Homo sapiens: one gene and its partners. The protein of the gene in region 6 interacts with the protein of the main gene of each other region in a pairwise test. Each region holds a gene or a part of one and is shown on either strand. Other genes may lie near its edges.

What was found.
Region 1: the proteins of ANKS1A (region 6) and KRT83 interact in a two-hybrid assay, tested with the Homo sapiens proteins (one large-scale study listed by BioGRID).
Region 2: the proteins of ANKS1A (region 6) and RORB interact in a two-hybrid assay, tested with the Homo sapiens proteins (one large-scale study listed by BioGRID).
Region 3: the proteins of ANKS1A (region 6) and TRIT1 interact in a two-hybrid assay, tested with the Homo sapiens proteins (one large-scale study listed by BioGRID and IntAct).
Region 4: the proteins of ANKS1A (region 6) and NEDD9 interact in a two-hybrid assay, tested with the Homo sapiens proteins (one large-scale study listed by BioGRID).
Region 5: the proteins of ANKS1A (region 6) and ARHGAP10 interact in a two-hybrid assay, tested with the Homo sapiens proteins (one large-scale study listed by BioGRID and IntAct).
Region 7: the proteins of ANKS1A (region 6) and PRDM6 interact in a two-hybrid assay, tested with the Homo sapiens proteins (one large-scale study listed by BioGRID).

Annotation. Positions count from the first base shown.
Region 1 is NC_000012.12:52,313,801-52,316,099, reverse strand, and holds the end of KRT83 (keratin, type II cuticular Hb3), read left to right. Parts: coding exon 1-207; intron 208-756; coding exon 757-788; intron 789-1,281; coding exon 1,282-1,469; 3' UTR 1,470-1,799; downstream 1,800-2,299.
Region 2 is NC_000009.12:74,691,506-74,693,677, forward strand, and holds the end of RORB (nuclear receptor ROR-beta), read left to right. Parts: 3' UTR 1-1,672; downstream 1,673-2,172. UniProt on the Homo sapiens protein: Nuclear receptor that binds DNA as a monomer to ROR response elements (RORE) containing a single core motif half-site 5'-AGGTCA-3' preceded by a short A-T-rich sequence.
Region 3 is NC_000001.11:39,845,505-39,849,004, reverse strand, and holds part of TRIT1 (tRNA dimethylallyltransferase isoform 1 precursor), read left to right. Parts: intron 1-907; coding exon 908-1,019; intron 1,020-1,257; exon of another isoform or gene 1,258-1,344; coding exon 1,345-1,457; intron 1,458-1,707; coding exon 1,708-1,785; intron 1,786-3,500. UniProt on the Homo sapiens protein: Catalyzes the transfer of a dimethylallyl group onto the adenine at position 37 of both cytosolic and mitochondrial tRNAs, leading to the formation of N6-(dimethylallyl)adenosine (i6A37).
Region 4 is NC_000006.12:11,212,169-11,215,668, forward strand, and holds part of NEDD9 (enhancer of filamentation 1), read right to left. Parts: intron 1,560-3,500; coding exon 1,113-1,559; intron 1-1,112. UniProt on the Homo sapiens protein: Scaffolding protein which plays a central coordinating role for tyrosine-kinase-based signaling related to cell adhesion. As a focal adhesion protein, plays a role in embryonic fibroblast migration.
Region 5 is NC_000004.12:148,067,588-148,071,087, reverse strand, and holds part of ARHGAP10 (rho GTPase-activating protein 10), read right to left. Parts: intron 1-3,500. UniProt on the Homo sapiens protein: GTPase-activating protein that catalyzes the conversion of active GTP-bound Rho GTPases to their inactive GDP-bound form, thus suppressing various Rho GTPase-mediated cellular processes. Also converts Cdc42 to an inactive GDP-bound state.
Region 6 is NC_000006.12:34,895,755-34,899,254, reverse strand, and holds part of ANKS1A (ankyrin repeat and SAM domain-containing protein 1A), read right to left. Parts: intron 1-3,500. UniProt on the Homo sapiens protein: Regulator of different signaling pathways. Regulates EPHA8 receptor tyrosine kinase signaling to control cell migration and neurite retraction.
Region 7 is NC_000005.10:123,095,741-123,099,240, forward strand, and holds part of PRDM6 (putative histone-lysine N-methyltransferase PRDM6), read left to right. Parts: intron 1-3,486; exon of another isoform or gene 3,487-3,500. UniProt on the Homo sapiens protein: Putative histone methyltransferase that acts as a transcriptional repressor of smooth muscle gene expression.

The DNA of each region.
Region 1 (2,299 bases), on a different chromosome or scaffold from region 6:
AGCTGCGGTGGCCCAGTCTGAGCAGCAGGGTGAGGCGGCCCTCAGTGATGCCCGCTGCAAGCTGGCCGAGCTGGAGGGCGCCCTGCAGAAGGCCAAGCAAGACATGGCCTGCCTGATCAGGGAGTACCAGGAGGTGATGAACTCCAAGCTAGGCCTGGATATCGAGATCGCCACCTACAGGCGCCTGCTGGAGGGCGAGGAGCAGAGGTGGGTCCAACCCAGCCCTAAGCACTCCACTTGCATAGACCTGCCCACCTTTGATTTTTCCCTATCTCAGTCTCAGTCCCCAGGTGACATTCTTGCCTCTATGGATCCCAGATCCATATCTTCAAGTTGTCTCATTCTCAACTCTTCCAAGATCCATACCCTGCCTGGTTTCTTGGACATCACCTATTCTAGGGCAGGGTTGCTGGCCAAACTCCACCCCTGACCTCGTCTTCCCAAGAGGGCCTTCTCCTTCTGAAAGTTGAGCCTATCTAGACCTGACAGATATGGTTGTTCAGGTTGTTCACTGCACAAAGGCAAATAACAGCTGAGAGACAAATAAGAATTGAAATCCAACCATACTCTACTTGCTAAATAGTGTGACCTGACGTTGCTTCAACTGCCAGAAAGGCAACTTTTTCTAAGCTGCACAAGGGAATAAATGTAGGTCAGAAATAGCCCTGAGATGACCCATTTCAGCACCTAGCGGAAATTCGATGACCTCATTCTGACTTCTTTTATCTTCCCCTTCCTTACTTTTTCCCCACTCAGGCTGTGTGAAGGTGTTGAAGCTGTGAATGTCTGTAAGTATCTTGAGCCCTGAAAAGGAAAATGTAGACTGGGGACAAAGGACTTCTTGACTATGAATATATGCAGAGACTTTGGGAGGAGTGTTTCCAATAATTCCCCCAGTAAAGAGGATAGGTTGGTCATGCAGCAAGACAGACTGAGGTTAGCTCGCAGGAAGAACCTCACAGCCTGAATGTGTTGGGGAGGGGAAAAAATAATAAGATGTCATTGCAAGAAGGGACCTCAGATGTCATTCATAACCTTCACCTTATATAGGTGAGAAAGCTGAGGCCCAGACAGAGGAAAGGACTCCCAAAGTCACAAAGCAGAACCAGGACCAGAACCCCGGTCTGCTGGCTCCCAGGCTAGGGTTCCCTCCTTCAGAATAGAACTGGAGGCTCTTTGCATCCTTCCCTGGATGGTCGACACATCAGACAGACCAAAGGAAGGTGGCTGGATGGGATGGCCATCAGCAGGGGTCTCTTGACCCTGCCCTTGTTCCCACAGGTGTCAGCAGCTCCCGGGGTGGGGTTGTGTGCGGGGATCTCTGCGTGTCGGGCTCCCGGCCGGTGACGGGCAGCGTCTGCAGTGCCCCCTGCAACGGGAACCTGGTGGTGAGCACTGGTTTGTGCAAGCCCTGTGGCCAGCTGAACACCACCTGTGGAGGGGGCTCCTGCGGCCAGGGGAGGCATTAAGTGGCCCAAAAGAGAGCCAGGGGAGCCCCTTCTGCCTGCCAGACGTGCCACTGCCCCACCACCAGCTGAAAACAGCAGCACATCGCTGGCTTTTCCCCTTGTGTTCTGAGAATACACCATCGGCTCATTCCCACCAGCGGCTCCTCCCCACCTTTCATCCCACTGGAAAGGGGCCTGTGGCTGGGGAATAGACCCATTCCTTCCCCTGTCTCAGCCTTCAGCCCCTCCCGGGGAGAAGGGCCTTGCTTCCCTGGAAGAAGCACTGTGAGACTGTTCCCCCTGCCTCTCTGGCCTCTTGTCTCCCCTTTTCCAATAAACTTGGGGACCTGCTTTGTGTGCTGCAATGTCTTGCTTTCTTGGGGTTCCCCACACCCACCAAGTGGTGAGCACCCCAGCCTGATGATATGGCCTGAAGACTAGAGTCGTTCTGGCCTGTTCTCCGCCTGGACACCCGTAGGGCCTTGTCCCCAGATGGTTCTGTCATCTCCTGGCCAGGCAGTGCTGACTGTGCTCACAGCACCTTCTACCTGTCACACCTGTCAGTCTGGATGGCTCTGAAGGGGACCGAGGAGGCCAGAAGTCAGCCGGAAGGCAGTGCATGTGCATGCGCATGTTTATATGTGTGCACGTGTATGCGTGCTTGTGTGTGTGTTTGAGTTTTGCCCCCTTCTTGCATACACGGTCCCCACTTTCTCTTCCTAGCATATCTTCACTCTGCCCCCCAGCCATCCTTCCACGTAGGTACCACAGCAACAACCACCAAAAGTGCCAGCAGCCACCCTTGGGGGCTGCCCTGTGTCAGTCTGGACCCCACCCCATTGCCACATCCT
Region 2 (2,172 bases), on a different chromosome or scaffold from region 6:
GTATTGTAGAAATGTAGAGGAAAAATAAAAATATTTTTTCAAATGTAATTACTTTTAATATATGCTTGTGGAAGGTCTAATACAATGTATGCTGTCTCTGTAATTTTTGCTGTAAATAACTGGAGACGGTGAGTACACTGATTTTTCTATGTCTCTGTTTAAGCATAAGACTTTGTAACAATTTTTTTAGAGGGGGAAAATCAACAAAGAGCAAATATGTACTTGCTTCCTTTCTGCGTGTTATGTACTTCTCAGTTTTTTAATGGAAACTGGTTGTAACAGTTTAAGCATCTTGACGGGTCATTGGTGTTAAGTGTATGCTTCTTTTTGTAATATGACTGAGAAAGGGACAGGGCTGTCAATTAAATCTGCTCCAAAGAATTTGTATTGAAGATTGGCCTAAGACCTGCAAACTCCATCTATAACTAGAAAATACGAAAAAGGAAAATTAAAAAAAAAAGTTGCCTGAGTTAAGTCATCTTTCCTTGTAGCAAATGGCTTTGTCCAAATCCTTTCTGCATGGAATAGCTTAAGGAAAACAAACTCCGCTTTCTGATGAACAAGATATTTTTGTACACATTTATTTCTTGTTAATAACCTGAGGTCAGACCACTCATTTGCTGAAGCCATAACTGACCTTCACCAAATAAATGTTGTAAAGAACCTAGGGGAGGGTTGGGGAGAGACTGAGAGGGAGGAAAATCCAAGGTGTCATGAGCTATAGCAACACAGGCAGGAGCAAGTTGTTGAAACTGATGCTTTTCCTGCATCCCAAATATGACTTTAAAAGGCTAGTATTTTATGATGATCGATTTATAATGATAAAAAGATATTTAGATTTAAATGAGACATTCCAATATTTTTGAAATCCCTAACAATGCTTCCTTGCTTTTAGGATTGAGAGAAATGATTTTCATATACTTCCAACATTCAGAGATTTAATGTTTTTACCTTAGCTCCAGCCTACGCTTGTAAAGTGAAGAGTGATTCTAAGTCCCGTGAAACCGTGGGCTGCCTGGGGCTTGGCTGTGCCCACTAACCTACTGCGCCTGGGGGGCAGCATGGGAGGGGTACAGTTTGCATCTCATTAGCATGCACACCACTGTTGGCAATGCATAAAAGTTGCATTGCCACAAGTATGTAAAATAAAAATATTCACTCTAAAAAGAATAATAATTCTACTTTTTTAAAAGAATAATGTCTCTTATAGTCACCATTGATTTTTCTGGAGTTTAATTACATTATTACCATGTATTCTTATTGGCCTGTAGAGGAAAAAGGCAAACCACAAATAAACCCAGTGACATATATAGTTTTAAAATCTACAATTTTCTGATCTCTCTCTCCTTGTTTAATATATAAGCCCTAATTTCTGTGTATGTGAGTAAAACTGCAGCCTGAGTCATTTAGGAAGTAAGTATTGAGTTTTTTTAATCATAAATATACTAGAATAAAACAGCACTCCCTAACAATTAAAAAAGAGTTTTATATTACTTTAGAATGTAATAGGTTTTTGTCCTTATTTTATGTCCTGTAAATTATTAGTTCAATACTGTTAGCATTCCCGGATAATGCACACATGATTTCTGAATGTTTTCTGTAAATGACAATCAATGTTTATGAAGTTTCCTCCTTTAATGCTGAACAAAATTAAAAGAAGAAAAAGAAAAAAGGACTGCCTAATGGTTTTCTTTCCTCCCCACCCCAACCCCCACTCTCATCCCTGGGAACAGGGAATGGGTAGAAAAGATAAGATTTAGCTTTGAAAACATTACCCCATGGGTTCTTACCTACAGAGTTTTCCTTTTTCTAGTAAGTAATGGTTAATTTTTTTTTTTTTTTCAGGAAATTCTTGTGTCCTCAGGGACCTGGCCTGAGTTAGAAATATTCATTGAGAAAAGACTGAGTCCATTCTAGCCAAATAGCTTACCAAGTTACAATTAAAATGAGAGCAGCATCTCTCAAAGATAATAGCTCTCTTTTTCTCAGCACTTTAATAAAAGGAAGCCCCAGCTAACAGAGCCATAAGCAACTCCCCTGCAACCATTTTGTTGAAATAACGTGCAGCAGGTTTGAAATGGATATGACAATCCCTACATCTGATGAAAGCTTTCAGATAATTAATGATTAAGTCTCTGTGTCTGATTTTTTTTGTTTTGTATCAAGCTGCTC
Region 3 (3,500 bases), on a different chromosome or scaffold from region 6:
TAATTTTTCAATAATGAAATTTTATAAACAAAAACTTTTACTCTACAGGCAGCATAAAATAATGGTATCTGATTCATAGTAAAGCTGTTTGTCACATCTGAACAATTACGACCTCTCACTCTTTGCTCCTTTGCTTGGCTCAGTAGTTTAGAATGTATCTAGGATGTCTTTTTTTTTTGTTTGAGACAGAGTCTCGCCCTGTTGCCCAGGCTGGAATGCAGTGGTGCGATCTCGGCTCACTGCAACCTCTGCCTCCCGGGTTCAAGCGATTCTCCTGCCCCAGCCTCCCAAGTAGCTGGGATTACAGGCGCGCGCCACTACGCCCAGCTAATTTTTGTACTTTTGGTAGAGACAGATTTCACTGTGTTGGTCAGGCTGGTCTCGAACTCTTGACCTCGTGATCCACCCACCTCGGCCTCCCAAAGTGCTGGGATTACAGGCGTGAGCCACCTTGCCCGGCCGTATCTAGGATGTCTTTGGATTAAAGTTCCATGTTCTTATCCAAGGTGTCATCTAGGGGTTCTTAAACATAAAGTAACACTAAGTTGCAGTATAATGACATATTAAATTAAAAATAAGAAAGGTAAACCAGGGGATCCTCAGCCACCTCTAAAACACATTCCATATGAGAATAAAATATTTGTCCTTCACAGTTGCTGTAATTGTATGCTTTCTCTATATAATGAGGAGGCATGTGCTTCATTCTGACTATGCTTCATTTTTATTTGGAGTTGCAAAGTCTTAAATGTGAGTAACGTATGAATTATTATAATAATCTTTGGAATCTGAATTCTTTCTTCCGTTTGGACAAATTCTCTTTTTTTGTGACCACCTGTTCACTCGTCATGTAAGTATATAGTAGGTACCTACAACTTGCTTGCTGGTTGATGGGCTAATTTGATTCAAGTTCTAGATGAGCGCTTGGATAAGAGGGTGGATGACATGCTTGCTGCTGGGCTCTTGGAGGAACTAAGAGATTTTCACAGACGCTATAATCAGAAGAATGTTTCGGAAAATAGGTGAGGATTTGGCTGTTATTCTGACCTACTGTCCATATTTTGCAGACAATCAAAAGACCATAACGCTAATACTGGCTTTGGGTCTACTTGTTTATCAGCCTTCTTTGCAGATGCAGTTTTTTAATCTTTCAGACAGTCCCAGGAGTTAACTTTTCAAGAAAGTAACCTGGTGGGTAGGGGAGGGGAAAATTTCAGAGAATCAGTAACTGCTCAGGATCTCAATTTCCTTATCTGACAGATGAAATGGCTCAACTAGGTCCATCTCCAAAGCCCCTGCTAGCTTTTAGGAGCAATGGCTTATCTGCTGATACCCTCCTGTTCCCAGCCAGGACTATCAACATGGTATCTTCCAATCAATTGGCTTCAAGGAATTTCACGAGTACCTGATCACTGAGGGAAAATGCACACTGGAGACTAGTAACCAGCTTCTAAAGAAAGGTGTGAATTCTTCCATCTAATCTAGTCTTGGACATCTTTGGGTGGCAGGGTACTCTGCTGGTATGGTCTGAGAAAGAGCCAAGGCTTAAAGCGTCCCAAATAGCCTTCAGCTCAGAACTGAGATTTTTGTCCACCAAGTCTGACATTGCACTGCCGTGGCTGACTTTTTCCTGCTGGGCTGGGAGGGCCTGCCTCTCTGCAGGGTAAGGAGTGCTTACCTAGATGTTCTTAAATCTACTGTATCTTTCAGGTATTGAGGCTCTGAAACAAGTAACTAAGAGATATGCCCGGAAACAAAACCGATGGGTTAAAAACCGTTTTTTGAGCAGTAAGTCTCATGTTTTTCTTTATCCTATGGGTCTGTTTTCAATAGAATATAGATGTCCTCAGCTCACCCAGAAAATGAATTTTAGATTCTGGGCCTGTTCTAAGATTTTGGATCTGACCTAAGGGAAGTTCTATAACATAAATGATTATCCAGGGATATTTTCTTGGGATGTCACAAAAAAAAAAAAAATTATTTGCATTGAGGAGTCTGCCTTCTGCCTTGAACAGATGGATACTGGCTGCAAACAGCTAAGAAGAACAGCAGCATCTTTTTTGGAGAGTTGGTGTTCAGGGCTGATTTTTAGCTTCAGTTTTGTACCTGAAGAGCAGTCAGATTTCTGTAGGGAAGATTTCCTAATTACAGTGTTTTTGGGGGGCCAGATGAGTTGTATAAAAAGACACCTTCACCATTTCTCCCAGCGTCTCCACATGGTGCTTCAGATTGCTTCAAATGAAACTTTAGTTGAACAGCATTTTTGAGGGAAAAGAAAGGAAATTCTCATTGATTTGGCCCTGTACTGTGTCTTTGGCACTAAATTTGGTGTTATACATATATTATTGAGTCTTCAAGGTAGGTGTTATTCTTTTATTTTTACAGATAAGAAAATGAAGGCCTAGTGAAGTTAAATAACTTGCCAAAAATCACCCAGCTAGTCGGCAGTAGATAACTGAATGCAGGCCTGACACAGAGTCCACACTCCTTTATACTACTCTTACTTCCTTTAGCTGTAACTTTAGCAAGACAGCATTAGTATTGGACCATGGGTAAAAACTATGTGGTTATGAGCTAAAGGAGATTAATTTAAGCATAAGTGAAACTTCAGTTTTATCTTGTGGACATGTTTTAAATATGCTTCTGAATCATCTTGTGTTTACCTTTTGCTGGTAGACTTCTGCTCTCAATTACAGACAGGGCCAGCTGAAGCCTCTGCCCCACTCGGTGCCTCTGAAAATACATACCTTGATCCCTGCTGTTGACCACTAAACTGCTAACATTCTTTCTCCCAGCTCCCACTCTCTGCCTGAGCTCTCCAGTGGAGTTCTGGTGTGAAGAGGCTTGTTGTGCTTTCCTCTACTTATCCTGTTTTCTCTGCATGTCCTGGTAGATAGAAGTCTTAGTGTCATCTGAAGTTGAAGCTCAGTGCTGTATTACAAATTTCTAATGCAGCTTCTCTTATCCCCATGTCTGACAATAAGCCTTTAACAGAAGACTTTTGGGTAATAATTTAGAACTTCTTCCTGTAGTAAAACCACAATAATTCCTCCATCTCTGTGGTAGGAGGAGTTGATGGCACAGTGTGTCATATGCCTGTTCCTCATTCGTGTGTATGCCGGCATCGTCCTGGTGCTGGAGTGAAAGGCACAGCTGCCCTGTAAATCAGGAGCTGTGCGTGATTGGCCAGGGCTGGTCTGCTGGGATATGGTTCTGGCAGGAAGCCAGGGGGACTTCCCCACCCCAGCATGGCCTTGGACCCAAGCCAGAAATAGCAGCTGGGAGCCGAGAACTTGTTGAAAGGTGCTTAGACAGGGCACAGAAGCCCAACAAAGGGCTTAGAGGAGAAAGGAAAATGTAGAGTGGCCTGGAAACAGGTGCAGAGCTTAGCCAAGGCCAGGTGTGCTGTGGATGCTGCCTGCACCCTCCTAGTCTCACCTTTCCTGTGGTAGCAGGTGCAGCCCAGTCCAGTTTATGAAGAATCTTATTTGGGGTTGGCACAA
Region 4 (3,500 bases), about 24 Mb from region 6:
TCTTTCTGGTATGTAATTGCATCTTTCCTCTTGTAATTCAGGGATATCTTCTTATCCAGTTAAATTTGTTCATTCCTAATACCAAACCTTGTAGGACCCATTGGAATTTGCCAGCAAATGAAAGAGAAAATCCCTCCTTTGTGATGCTCACATAAGCATCACCTTGGTTGTGGGTGTTACCCCCGATCAGTCCACTGACATTATTTTCCTGATAACACGTGTCCCTACCTAGCATTCTCTTGGTTGCTTCTGTCTCCCCCACGGCAATGTAAGCATCACCAGGGCTTTGTTTATCTTTAATTAATCACTGTATCACAAGCATCAAAAATATATTAGATGCTCAACATTCATTGTTCAATTAGTGAATTTCTATTGACCTCAAATTGCTAAAGTATTTGGGATTACACAGGGTGTTGCAGAGCTCCCCACACTGTATTTTTAAATTAATTCCTTCCTAAATATCCAAGCTCCACTGTTTTCACCCACTGCCTCAGGCATTATTATAAGAATGACTTGAAGGACAGGAGGATGGCTTCATTCCAATTCCACTAGTATCTGTGCATTTTTAAATGAGTCAAACTAAGCTGATAACTCTATAGAACGAGTTGGTCAGCATGACATACTCCCAGCTTCCTCACTCTCGCTACTTTGGGTGGGTTCCTTGTCCAGCCAGGCCACTGAGGTCATGATTCAGCTTTTGGCCAAGGGAGGATCCTTGTTGCATCATCAGGCTTGTACGAGATTTGGTGTTTGTTCCACTCAATGAAGAAACAGAAAAGATAGGAAACGATCTGAGCACAGAGTGAAGGCTTAGAAGCTGATATATGAGAAAGATGGAGAGAAACAGTTTAATAACCCATGTAACCCAGGATGACACAGGAACTTAGGAGGGCTGGAAATCAACTGTACTCAGCACATGGTAGTTCAAAGAAGTTTTGCTGAATGATGGATGAATGGCAAAATCATGCAAACATGATGCCTGAGCTAAGGTATTGGTTATATCTACTTCTTGGCAGCTTCAAGTTATTAATTTGGGAACATTTCCAAATGCTCCAAGTGTAATGGGAAAAAAAAATAAGTAGGAACAAAAATTTAGTTAGTCATTTACTCACCTTTTTACCCACGTGGGGCCCACTGGTTCCCCCAATGCTTCTCTGCACTGATGGTGGCACCTGATATACCTCTTGTTCTTGGGTGCCGTGGCCAGTGGGGACTTGGTAAATTCCCTGATTTTGGTAGGAAGGTGGCACTTGGTAGATGGTGTCTCGGGGAGCAGCCTGTGGGTTTGGCACTTGATAGAGCTTCTGTTGGCCAAAGGTCTGCTGCATCAGTCCAGAGGCAGGCTGCTCGTGACTGGAGGCAGTCTCCTGCATGGGACCAATCAGAAGCTTCACCCGGTTGCCTGGGACAATGCCTTGCCGACCGTGTAATGAGCACAGCCACCATCCTTCCAGTCCCCCTGTGTTCTGCTCTATGACGGTCAGGATGTCTCCCTTGCGAAAGGCCAGTTCCTCGGCACACTCTGGGACATTGTCATATAAGGCCCTTGCCATAAGATTCTAGGAGGGAAGGAAGAGAAGGAAACCGTGTTAGAATATTGGGTCGGTCCCTTTATCACCTAAGGCCCGTGCTCTTATGGAAAGGCACACTTCCTGGAAAGAGAGAAGCATAAATCTGAACAATAGACTGTAAGGAGAAAAACAGATGGTGCAGACAAAAGACAGATACATATACACTGCATCTGCCACCAGTGACATCAGACTGCCTCCTTGGAAAAGCTCAAAACACCAGAAGAGTTCTTTCCTCTAGCAGGATATGCCGTGCCAAGGAATTATGAGTAGCAGTGTTACAGAGTTAGAGCATGGTTCACTATACAAAACATTTTTCTTCCTTTTTCAAAGTGAGCTTAAGGAAAAAAAAATCCCGAGATATTCAGATGTTCGACAATGAACATTTCTCAATATTGTTCTATATTGGAGGTGAAAAGAGTAAAAGAAAAATCCCAAATAACACACAGTACAAATAGCATTTATATTTGGAGTTGAAAAGCCAATAGAAGTACACATATATATGCCTTGGCAGGGCTTAGAAATTCTTGTTCTCAGATGACAGGAGCCTTGGATCCAGAGAGAATCCACAAGCAAGGCATGTAGACATGCCATCAAGCGTGGAGCATAGGCCAGCAGCCATATACATCTCCAGCTTTGACAACAAATTTATTAACACATAGGTGGATGCCAACTCTTCTCTCTCGGTCTTTTATGCATACCTTTCCTGAGGGCCCCTCCTCGCCCTCCCCTTTCGTCACCTACTTCTTGAATCTCACCATTCACATCAGAAAAGCTGTGCCTTCCCCTTTCATGGGCCCAACACACTCTCCGTCTTTGTATGAAGGCCTGTCTGGCACATTCAGTACTAAGCAGACAGCCAAAGTAGGCATTCAGCAGAGAGTGGGCAGGCAGTACGTGCTGACATTCTTGGAGGCCTTTCAAAGGCTCGGAAGATTTCATTTCTTGGCATTAGTAAAGTTTCCCAGCACGCGGGCAGCCATTCCCGCATGTCTGCCCCCTTCCCAGAGCACAGCGAAGTCGGGGACGTTGTTGATTCAGCACAAGCCCTCGGAACACTAAAAGTGAACTCTAATGCTTTGTTAAGATGTTTGGATGCACTTAATGTCATTGAGGTGGGGCTCATTTATGGAAGAAAGGATTACGGATTGGATGGGGCAGGTTCATGACTTTATTTTATACCATGACATATTCGTGGGATTTTCGGCTGTCATTGTCTGAGCTTTTGCTGTCTATTTTCTTCTCTAGCAACGTGGACTTGATCATTCAGCCTCGTGCTTTTCATTTCTTTGCAGCTGACTTGCACTACTCGCGTCCCCTTGTGCTAGCCCCATTGCCACGGGTCCTGTGTGTTTTCCGCTCTGGAGGGCTGTGCAATGGAAGGGATCTGCCCTCTATTCAGTAGTTGGGACGGGTCCAGTTCTGCTGCTGTGAGCCAGGTTCCTCTTAGCCAGGGCAATTAAAAGAGATAAAGCCATAGAGGACAGTCCTCAGGAAGCTTTGTGATACTCTTCAAGAATAAGGTTGAAGTCCTTTTTCTTGACAGTTATGAGATCCAGGAAGTGTGAGACACAGAGAGGTGAGCGGCCAGGGAAGCTAAAGGGAAACTGAGGAGTGCATATTTCAGGGGAAGGTTTCACTGGGTAGTTAATATTCCAGGAGGCGCTGGGTTTCATCTAACAATGAAAAGTTCACATACATAAAGAAAAAATCAGGCAGCAGTTTCCCCTGTTCATGGAACCATTTAAGGATGGTGTCATAATCCTAAAATTGTCTCTGTTTCTCTTCTCCCATCTTTTGGGTATTCTGTATTTTACAAGAGAAGTCATAGAGTTACAGAGGACAAGATTCTGGTCCTTTTACTAAAATGACCTCCAGGAAATGACTCCACCAGAGCTGTACTGAGATTATTAAGTGAGGAGATAGCTGACC
Region 5 (3,500 bases), on a different chromosome or scaffold from region 6:
CTCAGAGTCTCGTCTGACTCCCACACTGTATGGGAAACTCCTGAAGGCAGCCTGAGCCTTATACATCTGGGCATGGTGCCTGGCACAATGGACTGTTCATAAATATTCACGTGATACTCAACGAGAAAATTGCAGCCTGGACAGCAAAGGGCACAGGTCCAAGCACTCCTCACCAGTGTTCGGAAATGCAATACAGAAGCATTTCATAACCCCCAGCTGTGAGCAGGCCCCAGCTCAAACCCCCAACCATGGTCAGGTGCAGGCGTGGCAGCCGTGGCATAAAGGAAAGGGGAGGCATGAGCTACTCCAGCGGACCAACTCGAAAGGTGGCTTCTGATCACAACCCAGGAGAATAATTTCATATCAAAAACCAAGTACAGGCATACACATCCGTAACACACACAAGTTTCATGAAGCAATACTCTTACCCTCACTGCGCGCATGCAATGCCTTCCTTTCTGTATTCTACTCTTTTTTTCCCCATAGATTTGTGTAGAAAAGTATTATTCTTTGAATGCTAATTGCAACTCAGCGAATTGAGTTCATGGTCCTCTAAGGTATAGCTGCCCACAGTTTGGAAGACAGGGACAATCCAATTCTAATTGTCCTTTGCAACAAGGTAACTGTTTGTTCTTCCCTCCCCTGGATGAATAGGAACACATTCCGGCTGTCTGCAGACTAACCGCCTGCACTTTCCTTACATTCAGTAAGCTTCTGGCTTCAACGCCTCCCTGGAGCTGTTCCCTTGGGCCTGAATGCTATTCCCTGCCTTTATGCCTGGACAGCACCTACTCATGCTTCAAAGAGCAGCTTCAGCATCCCCCCACTTCCAGGACTCCTCTCCTGGCTCCAGACCAGGTCGGGGCTCCCAGTTATGCACCCTACATGTTCTGTGTGCGTGTGTGCAGGCATACGTGTATATATAGGAGAGACACACTGAGACATTCTCTTCTAGTCCAGACTATGAGAGCATGTAACACATATAACATGAGACCCAGCACCTAGCACCGTGTCAGACACATGATTATCTGTGTAATGACTGAGTAAGCAAATTCAGAGATGTGCTCTCAAAGCGATCTGGCAGCAAGTTACTTCCTTCATGCCTTCACTGACCTTGACTCTGACATTGTTCTTCATACCAGGATTTTTAGAGACTTCTCACTTCATCCAAACACCCCAGCTGGCAGTGCTACTAGTGTGCAGCCACCATCAGGGAAAAGCTTTGGATTCTATGCAAAACAGGCCCTCAGGGTTGTAACAATGTGGGGGCCTGAGTGGCAAGGGGCCCAGGGCTGAAGTCAGAGCCCTAGAGGAGACTCCTGGCTACCTAGATGCATCTGGGAAATTAACCCCTGGGCCTTGCTCGGCTGTTACCTGCAATACGGGGTTACTAGCACTTAGCTTGCAGGACCTGCTATGAGGAGGCAGTAAGAGAGTCTCAAATATAGTCTCACCTGCACATGCTCACTATTTCTCCTCCTACCCTATACACACCACACACTTGCGCAAGCACAGACTCGGTATTAATAAAAGACAGGATGAACAGAGGAGGAAAAAGGTGATTTTCTACAACGCTGGAGGTGAAAGGAGGCTTGATTGGGGAAACCAAGGCCAGGCCGGGAATCCTGCATCTCCCCAACCAACAAACCAGAGAGACGCCTCCACAACCCCATTCACCACCTCCCCAGCCCTCCCCTCCCTGGAAGGCAGAAGCCAGTAGGGAGAGAGATGTCACTGCTTTACAGAGGCGACCAAGGGGGATCCTGTAACATCCAAGAGCCTTGGAAGTGGACCCAGCTGAGCAGTGGGCGAGGTGGGCTACAAGGGTCTGGAGACCAACAGCAAGGCATCCCCAAGCACAGGAAAAGTGGCTCCGCAGTTGCAGATAAGGCTGGCAGGCTCTCCCTCCCTCTCTGAAGATCTGACCTCTCTCAGTAGCATCGAACCCCAAAATACCCATCTGGGGCTCCTCTCCTAGTTTATCACACCACTCCTCCCCCAAGCAGTGTCTACGCGGACAACAGGGCTCTGCTTTTCCATTCTTATGGGTGGAGAACATGGCAGTCTCAGTGTCTGTCATTTCCCACGCACCCTCCCTATGCCTGCAGGTCTCAGTCCAGGAACCTCACCCTGCTTCAGCCACGGTGTCCTCACAGCCTTTAGACCACAACAGGGAACAAGACGGGTGTGAGGCAGGGACCCCAAGTAGCACCAAAGAGAGGCAGGTCCCTTCCACCAACTCAGTTTTCAGCATAATGTAGACAGTGTATGTGACAAGTACTGAAATCACTGAATTGTCATCATCACACGGTGAGTGCCAGGAACCCACACTCAACTTCAGAACTGCCACAGGACCCACAGGGAGGCTGCGTCCTGGGCTCTGTCCTATCTCCCACCCCGAGGCAACCAGTAGCTTGAATGTTGTGTTTCTCATTATCTTACCATGGCTATGGGTAAAATTCAGTTTTGTCACACAAGCACATATCCCTAATAATATCCTATTTATTTTGCATATGTGTGAGCTTAACCAGAAGCACATAAGTCAGAAGCGCATAGTCATCTGGAACTTATTTTTTCACTCGATATTTTTTTCTCAGATTCCCCTGTGCTAGGAATCTATCTGGCAACCACATCGCTGGGCTGTGGGGTCTATATGTGATCAGCTTTCCAAGATAATGCCAAATTGTTTTCCAGGGATTATTCTGTGTCTATCTGAGACCTTTAAAGTTTAATCGCCAGAGGCTTTTAAGGATTAATTTGGGCCACACCTGCTCCCCCACATCTACATGTGGATGTTGACAAAGAGCCTGGGACAGCCAGGAAAGCAGTCCCGCTGCTGCTGCCGCTGCCACGTGGGGTCGCTCCTGGAAACCACCTGCCTCAGCACCCCTCCCAACCCTGCCCCTGAGGAGGCAACCACTGCCCATCTAACTGGAGCGCACCTGACTGGAAAGACACAGCAGGACTGGCTGGTGGTCACCAGCAAAACCTATTTCCAGGATTCCCCAGGCCCAGAGAAAAGGGAAAGGTCCCTCTGGCCATCACAGGAACGTCACTGCCCTGAGACCTTACAAACACAGCCCTCTCCCGAGGGTGGGGGGCGGGGGAGTTGGGAGGCATAGCCCCAGAGAAACAGCTAGGCATTAGTGAGTCTACTAGAGAAACACATCTTCCGCCTAGAACTGGAACTCATAACTTAAGTCCAGGCCCACCCAGTAAGAGCAAAGAACAAGGACAGTCATGGAGCTACACAATTGCTAAAGACCCCTGTGCCAACCACACTCTGGGTCAGGATATCTCACAGCTGCACACATCCCAAACGCATAACTACTGACGAGGCCGCCCAGGGGTCACTCTGACCTCCAGTTTGTTTTCTCCAAAGGCCACTGGGTGGCATAAACCAATTTCCTTTGTTGCCTGTATGAGGTACAAAAAGGAATTGCACTGCAAGAGCATCTATGGAGGCTGGAAGACTCCAAATGGATAAGTGAACACAGGAA
Region 6 (3,500 bases):
AAGTTAACCATTAAAAAGTCCTGGGCTTGCACAAAGGTTACTTTCTGAATATAAGTAGTATTTAGCAACCATAAATCAGTATATTACTTCCCAGTCAGAAGGACCCAGGAGATGTAAGGGGCCTCAGAATTACTATGAGTCCTCAAATTCAACAACATGTATGTTTCTTGTTGATTTTGAGGTGCAATTTGAATATTCAGCTGTTGATTTCTGCAATGGCTGAATGTTGAAACTACACCTACCATTCTATTGAATATATCAAATGTTATAAGCAGAATGTACACACAAACTTATCCACATGCATGTTCATCACAGAGCTGTTCTAATAGCAAAAAACGAAAAACAAACTCATGTTCCATGTCAGGAAAGGGGTTAAATTAATTACAATTCATATATACCACGGATATCACATCCATTTAAAATGAGGTTGAGGAGGACAGAAAATATAGGAAAGTGTTTTCACAATATAGTTCGTGAAAACATGAGACAAAGTATATACAAAATAATGTCATTTCTGTTAAAAAAAAAAGTTTGCACAGAAAAAAACAAGATTGTACACCAAAATTTCAAGTTAATTTCTGTAGGTGGTAAAATTATAACTGATTTTATTTTCTTCTTAGTGCATTTCTTTGTCTTGCAATTTTTCTACCATAAAGGCAGAGGTTTACAGTCCCTTATCAACAATTCAGAAATCCAAAAAGCTCTGAAAATATATTTTCATAAGTTAGCAGCAGTCATTTAGCTGCAAAACCTGACCTACGCTGATATGAAGCGGCTTCATATTTATCCCATTTAGTCAATATTTACAGGTTTTGCTGTAGAAATACAATGTTTCCAGGGTGCTGCCACAGTCCCACTAGGGACTCAATATACAATATTGAGTCAGCACCCTGAAAACATATCTGGCCCCAAGGTTTCAAACAAAGGATTGTGGACCTGGATTGCTTTGTAACTTTGCCACCATTGCCAATTTTCAGGCTTTTTAAAACTATGGGACTCTTCATAGTTTAAAAGGTTGGGAGCTTCTGCTGTGAATTATTATAAATGTTAAAATGGCAACATCAATAAAAGATATGTCCTTAACAGGGTCCTCACTCTGATTCATCAAGGGTGGCAAGCACCTGGCTCCCATTAGATGATTCTAGCAGCTGAGGGTTACCAAACCCTTGCCATGTGCCAGGCATTATATGCCTTACATCCTTTAGCTCATTTAATGCTGCTTTAGAAGATAGGCACCATCCCAGGCCCATTATATATATGAAGACACAGAGGCGCAGAAAAGTGACTTAATTTGCCTAAGTCACAAGGCAGAGTTGGGTCAGAACCTGATCCTTAGCCACCATAGTATGTCCTCACCACTTAAGTAGGCCAGGAGGCAGTTCTGCTTCCTGGATCAGTGGTAATAATATCACAAACAGATACAACTATCTTGTTTCAAAGCAGAGACAACTGACTTGTTTTAAAAACTCTTTTTTGATTTGTAAACTAAACAAACTTGATCTACAAATTACTGAGAAAGGATAAATATGAAGACATACCATATAATTTCCAGTATTACTACCATTAACTCTAACCACACCAAAGTTATGTGAAGATGTTCTATGAATGTAACATATTATACGATATAATTTTCTCTACCACAGAAAATCTCCCAATAATCCTTTGGAAATCAGTGTGGGAAATATTTTCTGAGAGCTCTCCAAAAAAGAGACCAAGTTCCTACCCACAGGAGAGCCTGATTTTTCTAAGAACAAACTCTCCACTGTCTACTTCTGGGGTTTCCTTAGTGTTTCTGGGCTAAAAACCCAGTAATTTACTTTCCCTATGAAAGACTAGGGCAGAAATAGCCTGGACTTCCTTTTGCAAACCAGAATTCACAGCTGTTTGGGGTGAACAATCCAATGTGGGAAAAAGAACCTCCTGAAGGGATTTTTCTGGCCAAGAATGTAACTTTCACTGGGACCATAACCTCCTATGACCCGTGAACATGCTGAAGCTACTAGATACAAGTCAAATTCTTCAGATCACAAGCTTGTTTCATTGTTTCCTGTCTCTAATTTTTGCAACTAAGAAAGTAAAAACTGAACTTCAATTGGAGGATGCAGGAAAAAGGGAGACCACTGACTTTAAATCTTAAACTTTGTAGTAAATTTTCTTTTCACTGCAGCCTCAACCTTCCACCTTCTGGGCTCTAGCAATTCTCCCACCTTTGCGTCTCTGCCTCCTGAGTAGCTGGGGCCACAGGTGCATGCCATCACACTCAGCTAATTTTTTATTTTTATTTTTTTTGAGATGGAGTTTCGCTCTTTTTTGCCCAGGCTGGAGTGCAATGGCACGATCTTGGCTCACTACAACCTCTGCCTCCCAGGTTCAAGCAATTCTCCTACCTCAGCCTCCCAAGTAGCTGGGATTACAGATGCAGGCCACCACACCCAGCTGATTTTGTATTTTTAATAGAGATGGGGTTTTACCATATTGGCCAGGCTGGTCTCTAACTCCTGACCTCAGGTGATCCACCCGCCTCAGCCTCCCAAAGTGCCGGGATTACAGGCGTGAGCCACTGCGCCTGGCCTAGTTTTTTTATTTTTTGTAGAAACGAGGTCTTGCCATGTTGCCCAGGCTGGGTAAATTATCTTTAATTCTAAGTAAATGCCTTACTCAGTTTAAGATTAGGCACCTTCTAGATTTTTACATATAAAGTAACTACCACAAAAGTCATTTCCAAGCATGTTACCTTTTTTTGTTTCCTTTTGTTTTTTAACATGGGAACCACACTCTGCTTTAGAGAAAGCAAAAATGTAAGTACAGCAATTCCAAAATGCAGGAACAGGGCTGCCCTCCCAACAAAATCACACTTAAAGGGAGTATTTTAAGACATTCTTGGCTGGGCGTGGGGGCTCACACCTGTAGTAATTCCAGCACTTTGGGAGGCCGAGGCAGGCAGATCACTTGAAGTCAGGAGTTCGAGACTAGCCTGGCCAACATAGTGAAACCCCTGTCTCTACTAAAATACAAATATTCGCCAGGTGCAGTGGTGCATGCCTGTAATCACAGCTACTCAGGAGGCTGAGGCACAAGAATTACTTGAACCTGAGAGGCAGAGGTTGCAGTGAGCTGAGATTGCACCACTGTACTCCAGTCTGGATGAAGGAGTGAGACACTGTCTCTGAAAAAAAAAAGAAAAAAAAAAAAGGCCAGGCACGGTGGCTAACGCCTGTAATCCTAGCACTTCCGGAGGCTGAGGGTAGACTGCCTGAGCTCAGGAGTTCGAGACCAGCCTGGGCAACACAGTGAAATCCCGTCCCTACTAAAATACGTGCGCCTGTAATCCCAGCTACTCGGGAGGCTGAGACAGGAGAATCGCTTGAACCCGGGAGGTGGAGGCTGCAATGAGTCGAGATCGTGCCATCGCACTCCAGCCTGGGCGAGAGAGAGAGACACTGTCTCAGAAAAAAAAAAAAAAAAAAAAAAAAAGAAAGACATTCTTGAAAAACTATTTT
Region 7 (3,500 bases), on a different chromosome or scaffold from region 6:
AGGCGTCGGGCAGGTACTGGGGAGTGAAGATGTGATGTAGCTCTCACTCCCCACGCGCCTACACATGACTGTTGGCCTCTCCACACACCAAAAGCCCGGAAGCGTTTTATATTTCACCTTTCCTAGAACGAGAAATGAAATTCCAGAAAAGAAAACCATGGCCTGCTTTGCCGCCTTTACCTTAAAATAGATATATTGTAAAGATCTATTGCACTTTAAAGACATTGAAACAACACAGAAGGATAGGAAATGAAGAGTGAAAGTCTGCTCTTAACTGCACTTGGCCTGGCCTTCTGATGCCAGGAGGCGAACAAGTCTGTAACCTAATGACAGCACCTTCCTTTACTCAGAGACGCTTAGACAGGAGCATTGACAGATTTACTCAAGATAGAAGAGTATTTATGAATAACAATTATGAACTTGTACAAAAACTCTTCCCCTGATTTTAAGAGAAAGTATGAACATTTACTTGCTTCCTTGTTAGGAACCTAAGTAGTTGTATTATGTATTGCTTGGCTTGGAATGCTCTGTGTGTGTATATATAATATAATGACATATATTATATACATTTATACATAGTTTGGTCCTCTCATATAGCCTGCTTCTCTTTCAAACCTTTTCATGTAGGTGTTTATACTCTGCTAGAATGTTTGTCTTCTTAAGCATATTTGTCAATCCCAAGAAATGTTACTTGTTTTTAATATCCTCAAGCTACCCTGAGACTCAGACATAAGTTAGAACCCAAATGTTTCAGCTGGGGGATTTTGTGTATTAAAAAATAACATTGGAATATAACATGTATCTTGATGGCAGTTGGTCAACTTTTCTGGCAGAATATTTTGATATAGCATGAAGTGGTTCACAAATTAAGAAGACCCCTGTTGGGTGGACTAATTAAAGTTGATTGACTTTGTCTAGCCTGCTGTGGACCTAACACACAGATAGTCTTCTAGATATTGGGAGAGCCTCAGTTTTTCACTTTTAATAGTAGCATAATGCTACTATTAAGTTTTTCAACTCTTTATGGAGACAAATGAAACAATAAGTTGAAGACGGCTTTAGAGGACTTCTTGGAGAAAGGCCTTAGCCACAGTTTTATTATCATGCATTACAAATATTAGAAGTGTGCTTTTTGTCTATGGAGGTAGTGGCTGGAGTTGGTACCTATGCTGATGTCGTTGATGGGATGACACGTGTGGAGAAGCATGTTGGAAGTTGACTGTCTCTGGCACAGGCTGCTAGGGAATGAAAACTAAACACTCTTCTGACCATTTGCATCATTGAGTCAAGCAGAAAAAAAAATCAGTTAAGTAACTCCCTGGAGTGACTTATTTCTATTTCCATGGGCATATTGCCTTTGCTTATTGTCATTTGCTTTTAGCTATTTTTGCAAAGGTGCTGAAAGGCTGTCTCTGAAGTCAGACAGTAACATTCAAAATTATAGACATTATCTATGTATTTTCCTATCCAATCTCTTACTTTAATGTCCGAAAACACAAGAGTGTGGGAAAGAGAGAAACCTCTATAACTCAATCATGCTACAGCAATTTTCATGGCCCCCAAAGTTACTTCAGTGAAATATTTCAATTCAATTGAGTCATGAGTTTGAATGTTAAATTTCCCCAGCTTTCATTAGTCTTTTAAAAATCTCTGGGTTTAGAGGCCTTGCAGTCAGGCAGCCTTGACTGTGAATCCTTTCTCTGCCACTTTCTAGCTTCTGGTTCTTGGTGGAGTAGTAGTGCTTGGGAATTGCTTTATCTGCAGAATGGGAATCATGATACTTAGATAATATGCTGGTTTTTGGTTCTAGACAGGTGTCTGACACATGGTATGCACTGTAATTGTGTTTATTGTCTTTCATGTAATTCCCAAAATGTCTTGAAGTTTTTATTTTCACAATCAATAAGCTTGAGAGGGTGTGTGAAGTGTGTGTGTTTCAGAGGAGTTGACATATGGATAAGTGTGAGAATACTCCCATCCAGGCCCTGGGGTCAAAAGCAGAGTCTGGGAGAATTTTAACAATAGTTTGTGTTGCTGGCAGAGGAAGGACAGAAGAGGGCCTTTGTGCAAGGGAGGCCCAGCGGCATGGACACTTCTCTGCTTTCCGAAACAAGTTGTTGCTTTTCACTTCAGAGGTCTGGGGACATTTCTGAGAAGCTTGCAGCCCTCATTCTTCCAGCTCTCTTGGGAGGAGTAGAGGAGTAGCTGCTGACTGAGGCAAAGGTTTGGCTGGCTAGAGCCCCCTCCAGTGAGACAGGAGGCTTACATAGTCAGCCCTCCTTTGCTGTGAAGCAAATGGCAAATCGAGGGCTCCCTTACCATGCTGGGTTGCGATTAGCTGTTCCTGACACAAACGTTTCATACAGACTCACAAGTTTCTTGGGCATTTCGGTCATTTCAGCGCAGATAGGGCACATCCAGGGTGATCCAACAGGCCTGGCTGCGGCCAAGGCTGGCGGCGGCAGGTACCCGGGTGCCCCGAGGGCCACCCGCCGCCCCGCTCTGGCGCATCCATCAGTGGCCAGCTTTCACCGTGTCTGCCAGGCGGGACTCGCCAGGTGTCAGGCTCAGTGCCATAAGCCTGACACTTGCGCGGGGTCGCCGTGGCTCCTCAGGGAAGCTGGGCCAAGGAGGCTGGGTCGCGCCGGCGGGCGCCGAGGCCACCTTCTCGGGGCAGGCCATCCGCGCTGAGGCGCAGACACGGCGGCTCCTCCAGGCCCATTAATAACCCGGAGGGCGCTGCGATCCGACAGCGCAGTCGCCACAGGCTCTATTTCCCGTGGCCGCCTGCCTCCTTCCAGCCCAGTTCGAGTGGAGGGATACTGGGCGCCCACTACCGCCCGGCCCGGAGGGTGGGGGTCCCTCTCGCGCAGGCTGCTTTGGAGAGTGTCGGAGAGAGACAGCTTTATCTACAGCTTCACCCATTGTATAGCACAACAGAATCGCATTTAGCCTGGAGAACAGCCGTCGGGGCAGGAGTTGGTGCCTTCTCTAACAATTAGGCTGATCGTTAAATTTGCTATTCCTTTCTTCCGGCGTCTAGGGAGAGCGTGCACACCAAACCCTCCAGAACAGCACCCCGGTCCCCCACCCCGCCCCACCTGTCCCCGCCCTGCTTCAGTGCCTGGAGGGAGAACTGACTGGTCGCTTGAGGGACCCCATTTCGGGCGCGCCCTTGGAGTCCTGGGGCTGCGGCTCCTGCTCTACCGGGCTGCAGGCTTGCTCTGCCCCGTCCCGTGGCGTTTGGGAGGCAGTCGAGGAAGCCTCCGAGTCTCTGGGTCGAAGGAAGTGCGAATGGCACCCGCGATAGACTGGCCGTCTCCCCCACCCCGCCCCGTCTGGTGATTTTAAATCGTCTCCTGTGTAATTGTAAAAAGAGGAAAGCTGAATACCCAGACGACCAGTATAGAATCTCTTCGAGACAGCAGATTGGGCAAGAGACGGGCTTTTTTTCGCAATACAAGGATAAACACATCCTGAAACTCCAGATAGAAACCTCA